2 linked regions of the Homo sapiens genome follow. The protein of the gene in region 1 interacts with the protein of each later gene in a pairwise test. Each region holds a gene or a part of one and is shown on either strand. Other genes may lie near its edges.

The links. The genes of interacting proteins can lie anywhere in the genome.
Region 2: the proteins of NR2E3 (region 1) and ELAVL2 interact in a two-hybrid assay, tested with the Homo sapiens proteins (one large-scale study listed by BioGRID and IntAct).

What each region holds. Positions count from the first base shown.
Region 1 is NC_000015.10:71,808,907-71,812,653, forward strand, and holds the start of NR2E3 (photoreceptor-specific nuclear receptor), read left to right. Parts: upstream 1-1,647; 5' UTR 1,648-1,837; coding exon 1,838-1,955; intron 1,956-2,576; coding exon 2,577-2,703; intron 2,704-2,859; coding exon 2,860-2,963; intron 2,964-3,048; coding exon 3,049-3,270; intron 3,271-3,429; coding exon 3,430-3,605; intron 3,606-3,747. UniProt on the Homo sapiens protein: Orphan nuclear receptor of retinal photoreceptor cells. Transcriptional factor that is an activator of rod development and repressor of cone development.
Region 2 is NC_000009.12:23,819,613-23,823,259, forward strand, and holds part of ELAVL2 (ELAV-like protein 2), read right to left. Parts: intron 3,521-3,647; exon of another isoform or gene 3,154-3,520; intron 2,944-3,153; exon of another isoform or gene 2,751-2,943; intron 2,209-2,750; exon of another isoform or gene 1,993-2,208; intron 1,698-1,992; exon of another isoform or gene 1,615-1,697; intron 1,545-1,614; exon of another isoform or gene 1,323-1,544; intron 1-1,322.

The sequences.
Region 1 (3,747 bases):
CTTCTGGAAGCTTCACGCTCCGCCCGCTTCCCCTTGGGGTCTAAGGCTGGACCAACCCCACCCCAGCTCATCCTGAGGTGAGCTCTGGTCTGCTGGGGACAAGTGGTCCCCTCCAGGACAACATGGGCTTTCAGCTCTGTCCCGGGCAGGGAGGGGGCTGGCAAGTGGGCCTGGGGGTGGAGGAGCAGGCAAGAAAAGGCTGCTGAGTGTGACCTTCTCAGTAACCCCAAGAATATAACAATATCAGCTGCACACACCATTTATTAGGTTCTTACTGAGTACCAGGCTCTGAAACACATTTCCTGAACCATTGTCTTTAGTTCCCCAACTACACCATAGGACAGGTGCTCTTCTCATCCTGTTTTACAGGTGAGGAACTGAAGTTTGGACAGATTGAGTCACTTTCTCAGGGACACATGGCTGGCCGGTGATGGAGAAGGTACTTGAACCTGGGTCTGCCTCTGCTCTCTCCACACTCCCTTGCGGGGGCCCGGGGCTTACTATAAGGCAAGGATGTAAGACAAGTTCCTCCTTCCCTCTCCTTCCCACAGGAGCAGAGGCATCGCTGGGCTGGAGGTGGGAAGGATGGACCTGGGAGCAGCGCAGGGGGCTGGTGTGGCAAGAGGCAGGCGGAGCTGTGAGGCCGAGTTCGGGGGGAAGGGGAGGACTCCTGAGAGCCCGTGGCCAGGCTCAAGGTGGCTGTGTCCTCACTGGCTCTAGTCCTGCAGGCCTGGCTCTCCAGAGGAGCCTGCCAGCTCCTCTTCTGCCCCCTCACAGGCCTGAAGGAGACCCTCCAGATGGGGATCCAGGCCTCTTTCCTCCAGGCCAGCCTCAGACCCTACGGGGGACGGTTCTGGGAACGTCCTCTGTGCCAGGTGTCTGGGGACTGCTAGCCTTCTGGGGGGGCTGGATCCTCAAATCGTGAGCCCCAAGCAGTCCCTTTCCAAGGGATTGGAGTGAGAACCTCGTGGGGCAGAGCCAGATCTACCTAGGACCCAAGGGGAGTGTCTCAGGCAGGACCCCCACAGGCAAAGACACACACACTGGCCACACACTTGCCTTCGGATGTGTGCCAAGCAGCTCAAAAGGATTTAAAGTCCAGCCAGGTGGGGTGGCTCACACCTGTAATCCCAGCACTTTGGGAGGCTGAGGTGGGCAGATCACTTGAGGTCATGAGTTCGAGACCAGCCTGGCCAACATGGCAAAACCCCATCTCTACTACAAATACAAAAAAAATTAGCCGAGCGTGGTGGCAGGTGCCTGTAATCCCACCTGATTGGGAGGCTGAGGCAGGATAATCGCTTGAACCCAGGAGGCAGAGGCTGCAGTGAGCCGAGACCATGCTACTGCACTCCAGCCTGGGTGGCACAGCGAGACTCCGTATCAAAACAAAGAAAAAGATTTAAAGTCCTTGGGAGAGGTGGAGTCCACACCTCTCTTCAAGATGTGGCATGAAATGGTGAACAGCTGAGCACACAGGGCAGGAGGGCCCCGGGGGACCTTGGGCAGCCCGGGAACCAGCATGGGGTAGCAGGACTGACCGGCTCCCGGGGCACCTTGGTAATGCTGCAGGTGTGGCCAGTTGATCCCCTGTGGAGACAGTAAAGATTAAGAGGATCATAAACTGCGTCCAGCGGCTGCCCCGGGAGAAATCTCCTCAAGCCAGAGCCTGTGCTGTGAGGGGCTTCGGGACCTTGGGGCAGCTCCTGAGTTCAGACAGAGTTCAGGAAGGGAGACAGGGGCACAGAGAGACAGAGGTTCATGGACTGAGGCAAAGGCTGGGCCAGGCTCAGCAACCCAGGCCTCCCGCAGGCAGGCAGAGGCTGCCCTGTAACCCATGGAGACCAGACCAACAGCTCTGATGAGCTCCACAGTGGCTGCAGCTGCGCCTGCAGCTGGGGCTGCCTCCAGGAAGGAGTCTCCAGGCAGATGGGGCCTGGGGGAGGATCCCACAGGTATGGCTTCTCCTGGAGGTAGGGTTGGGTCTGGGCCCTTGGGGAGCAGGGTAAGGGCCAGAGGTTCGCAGGGACCATGGAAGGAGCCAGAACAACTCAGACCCAGCCCCGCCGGCTGTGGGCAAGGGTGGGGTAGCCTGTGGGTAAACCCAGAATCCTAGAAACACGGTGGGGCGGGGATGGGGGTTGGGGGCGGGCAGGCTGCAGAGCCAGGACAGGACAGCCTAGCCGATGGGGAAGGAAAGAACAGAGAAGCGCCCTTAGGGCTTAACAGCACAGAGGTCCCTAGTGGCGTTGACAAGAATGTTTCTGTGGGATGATGGAGCCTGAAGCCACCCACAGAGAAGGGATGGGAGCTGGGAAAGTGGAGCTAGGGCTCGGACTCTTGCTGAAAATTGGCCATTGAGGGAGGAGAGAGGGCAAGGAATGGGGGTGGGGGCTGGGGTGTGGATGCACAGTGAGGGAGACACTTCTCCAGATGGAAGAGTCACGCGTGGGTTCGTTCAAATGCGGGTGAGCGGGGCCTGAGGACTGGGAAAGGGACCCGAGGGAAGGAGGGGAGCGTGCAGCCCTGCCCCGGCCCAGCCCTGCCCTGGCCCAGCCCTGCCCCCTGCCCCTCAGGCGTGAGCCCCTCGCTCCAGTGCCGCGTGTGCGGAGACAGCAGCAGCGGGAAGCACTATGGCATCTATGCCTGCAACGGCTGCAGCGGCTTCTTCAAGAGGAGCGTACGGCGGAGGCTCATCTACAGGTGAGTGCGGTGGGCCCTGCTGGGCGTCTGCCCCTGAGGGGTTCTGGAGGGGTGAGGGGGTGCTCAGGGGAAGAGGGGCTTGGGCAAAAATGTCCAAGCCCATGGCTCAGGGCATGGGAGGGACACTGACCCCTGGGGTCTCCTCTTCACCTGCAGGTGCCAGGTGGGGGCAGGGATGTGCCCCGTGGACAAGGCCCACCGCAACCAGTGCCAGGCCTGCCGGCTGAAGAAGTGCCTGCAGGCGGGGATGAACCAGGACGGTGAGGCGGGGGCTGGCCCGGGGGGAGGTGACAAGAAATGGGCAGCGGGACTGGCGTGTCGTCCTGACCCTTCCTGCCTCCCCAGCCGTGCAGAACGAGCGCCAGCCGCGAAGCACAGCCCAGGTCCACCTGGACAGCATGGAGTCCAACACTGAGTCCCGGCCGGAGTCCCTGGTGGCTCCCCCGGCCCCGGCAGGGCGCAGCCCACGGGGCCCCACACCCATGTCTGCAGCCAGAGCCCTGGGCCACCACTTCATGGCCAGCCTTATAACAGCTGAAACCTGTGCTAAGCTGGAGCCAGAGGATGGTGAGTGGGAGAGCAGCTGAGGGCACAGCAGGGCTTGGCTTCCCGGGTCACAGCAGGGCTGCAGCGCCTTGCCTTGATCCTCCCTCCCCCGGGGCTCCAAGTACTCCCTGCCACCTCCCGAGAAGCAGGCGCTAAGATCACAACCTCCTCCTCCAACAGCTGATGAGAATATTGATGTCACCAGCAATGACCCTGAGTTCCCCTCCTCTCCATACTCCTCTTCCTCCCCCTGCGGCCTGGACAGCATCCATGAGACCTCGGCTCGCCTACTCTTCATGGCCGTCAAGTGGGCCAAGAACCTGCCTGTGTTCTCCAGCCTGCCCTTCCGGGATCAGGTACCTACCGGCCTGCCTGCTGGGGAGCTAGGCTGGGCTGGGGTCAGGCGGCCCACTCGAGTCAACCAGACAGGGCACACACATCCCCACGCCAGTATGAATGCACACAGCTTGGATGGTGATGGCTGGGGACACACATACC
Region 2 (3,647 bases), on another chromosome or scaffold:
GGGCTTAACACCTAAAGTTGTCTTTCAAAGGAAGAAAAAAACAACTAACTCCCTGAAAGGTGGCAGCACAAAGTTACCCAAATAACAGGCAACAAGGGGCTGGTTTTAACCACACAAAAATAAAAATACTCTCTCAAAAAGGAAAATTACAAAGGAGGAATCACAGAAAATTTAATGTAACATGTTTCTTCATATTCTAATTTTTCCTACCCCATTCTGGCCTTTATCTTCCAGATGTTTTCTTCCTCTTCTTTCTCTCCCCATAGTTTGCAAGCGAACTTCCCGTAAGTATATCCTCCCCACAACCTTAAGTGTTGTTACCTTAGCATCCCTACAAACCTCCTATAAAGAAGGCCCCTACCACAAATGCAGTAACATTCGGGTCCACTCAGCAATACAGTCACCATTTATATATACCCAAAGGTTACTAAGACAAGGTAGATGCAGGACAGCTTTTCCACCCGCTCACCAAAATGGAAACTCCAGGTCAGCTTCCACAAGAAATGGGAAATTCAAGCGACTCTGGCGAAACGATTCTTGAGAAAACTCTTCAAGGGCAACAAAACAATATTTCAAACAAACAGATTTTACTTGAGGGAATGGGGACATTACACAGCAATTGATATTCGAATGGTTTTAAATGGACTGATTCGCCGTAAGTTTTGAGGCTGAGCTAAATTTTTATGAAGAATTATTAGGAATAGGGCCACTAGAAAATTAAGTTTTAAAAGCGCTTTTGTCCTTGCCGAAGGTATTACATTTTGGCACTTCTAAGAACCGTTCTTTGAGGGAGGGAATAAAGGAGAGTGGACAACTCGTAGCAAATCCTTTTCCCATGTTTTCAGAAAATGTAGAGACGATAGGACTTGAAAATCTTTGTCATAAAGATGGTCTTTAAAAATGCACACAATTCTAAATGACCATCTGGGCAGCTACAACTGCATGCTCATAGCTCGCATCTAGAGGCATGGTTTTACGCTCTGGCCCTGAAGGATAACAAGGAGGCTTTTAAGGAAATGCCGTGAGAAAGACTGCTGGCTAAGCATTGTCACGGCCACTGGAGGAGCACCTGCCAGTGAACCGACGCTGGCTCCCCCAGTCTCACCAGTGCACGCACACTAGTCCGTGCACCCCGGCCGCCGCTGGCAGGCCCTACCAGCCAAGCTGGAGGAGCAGCTGCCGCAACCACGGCAAGCGAACTGAAATCCCAGAGCCGGCCTCGCCCGGCAGAGCGCCCGCGCTTCCCGCGCAGCGCACGCCTCGCGCGCAAACCCGAGATGTGACCGCGAGCTGCGACCTCGCGCGGCTGCGACGGGCCTCACCTAACGCGCACGAGGGGATCATCATTGCTCCTGCCCTGGGCGCCCGCGGCCCTACACCACCTCCGCACACAACGCGGCCGGTGTTAAGTCTCCAAACGCCCCGAGAGCTCCAAGGACCGCGCGCGCGAAGGCGCCGTAGCAAGTGGGCACACACCAGACACCACCCCGGCGTGTTCCGCGGGAGAAGCCAGTGCACACATCCTCCCGCAAGGCGGGGTTGCCAGTGCAACACAGGAATCCTGCCCTTTTTCTAGAAAAGCCCCCTCCCCCACTTTCCCTCCAATACACTCACCTGCGTCTCAACAGTTTCCTTCTTGCGCTACACGCGGCCGCACCCGGGCACGTCCACGCCCGTGCACGCTGCCAGGCGCGACTGTCCCCGCTCGGCTCCCGCCGCCCCCAACCTGCTTGTGCCCACGGGAGGGGCGGTGCCACCTCCCGAGGCGCCCAATTCTCTCTACTCCCGCCGCAACGGGCTGAGCTCTAGGAACTTCGCGGGCACAACCTCCGCCGCCCCCACCAGTGTTCCCGCCCAGAGTTCGGACTAGGGCGCACCACCCCTACCCTGCTAGACGCAGCGGGGGCGCGCACAGACCTTAGCCTCGGCGTCCAAAATGGACCAGGGGCAAGGCGCGGACGCCGTCCCCGCCCCCACGCCCCCAGCACTTGCCTGCTGTGACTCGAAGCTGCAGCTACTACGGCTCGTGCCGCTGGCCGTCAGCACTGCCGCGGAGGAGTCGCTCGGGGCGAGCTCCGCGGAGAGGCGGTGGCGGCGGCGGCGGCGGGAAAGGGGACTGGAAGCCGGCGGAACCCCCGCCCCACCCGCGCCGCGCCGCGCCGCGCCGGCAACCGCCCTCCTCACCCGGCCGGCTACTGCCTCAGTGACGCCCAGGCGCCGCGGTCCCGCCGTTTGTAGCGGGGCGGGAAGGAGGGGCTTGCTTGGAAGAGCGCCAGGAGGCGGGGCCGGCGGCGAGTTCGCGGCGCCGCGGCCGCCGCCGGCGCGTGCCCTGCCCGACCGCCCTTCGGGTCCGTGCCGGCAGGGAGATGCCGGGCTTCAGCAGCTCAGCTCCGTCCCTCCGGACTTCCGAGTCTCACCAGGCTTCCCCGACAAGGTTTCTCTGGACTCGGTGGAGAGCGTTGAGCGCCCAGAGGAGGCTGATTCCAGGTGCAAGTTTGCAAATCCCGAGGCCCGGGGCGCTAACGGGGAGTCAGAGCAGCTAACGTGGGGGTTACTTTATGTGTTCATAAATGTATTTATAAATATATATAAGTATACACACATATGTGTGTCTCTTTTAAAAATTCTCTTTTTCCCCCTACTTCGCAGCCAAGGGGTCCTGTCCCTGGACAGAAAATAAAGGCTTAGCCCCCTGCTGCCCCTCCCTGCCTCTCTAGAGAGAACCTGACGTTTAAATAAGCCCAGAGTACCTGTGCGGGGTGCTGTACTCTGCTTCAAACGCAAAGTAGGAAATCCTGCACTCGACTATGCAAACGCTTGCCGCTAGCCGCATCCTTCTATCGCCCCCCAACTCAAGACCCGAAATGGCCAACTCTTCACCGAGGGGGCGTCCCATCGCTGCCTTGCCTTGGCCCGCCCCTTCGCCAAGCTCAATCCCTTTTCCCCAGAAAAACCTGTGCCTGTCCTCAGACCCGGCCCCACGGCTGGAAGTCAAAACCCACCCCGGAGCCACGCGGCTGGAGCACGTTTTTACACCTGCTCGGCCGCTTAATTACGAGAGCACCTGTAGTTGGGATTTTTTTCATTGCAAAGGCATCGATTTTAGCCCTTCTCCTAAAATACTACATTTAAAAAATCACCTGTCATACCTACCTGAAATTGTAGGAGGTAAGAGAAAGGAACCGAGCAGTGGGCGACCCAGTCGCCGCAAGAACGTGACCGAGGTTACAGCTTCAAGGGCATGATGCAGGTTTGATGCAGCAAGGTCCGCTAAGGGCGTCCAGCGCTCCCCGCCCCCATGCGACGGGCGGAGCGGGGTTGGGGGGAAGGGAGGGGACTCGTCTAACCCAGGGCGGGTGTGGGAGAGGCAAATTTGCCCTCTTGGGCGAAGTCTAATCAGCATAGTGAAGTAGGGGGCTCAACCAAGGTCAAAAGCGAGATAGGCCATCCCTTAATTTGTGCGACCCAGTCTGGGGACACCGGATACAGCTAACTGATTCTATATCAGCATTTCCGTGTCACCCCAAATCCGATTTGCAATTAAATGACCTTAATTGACTTTGTGTGGGTTCCTGGGAAAACTGCTCAAAGCGCCTGCGCCTCTTTGACCTCTCAGTAAATAGTTAATTATAATATTCTCATCCCAG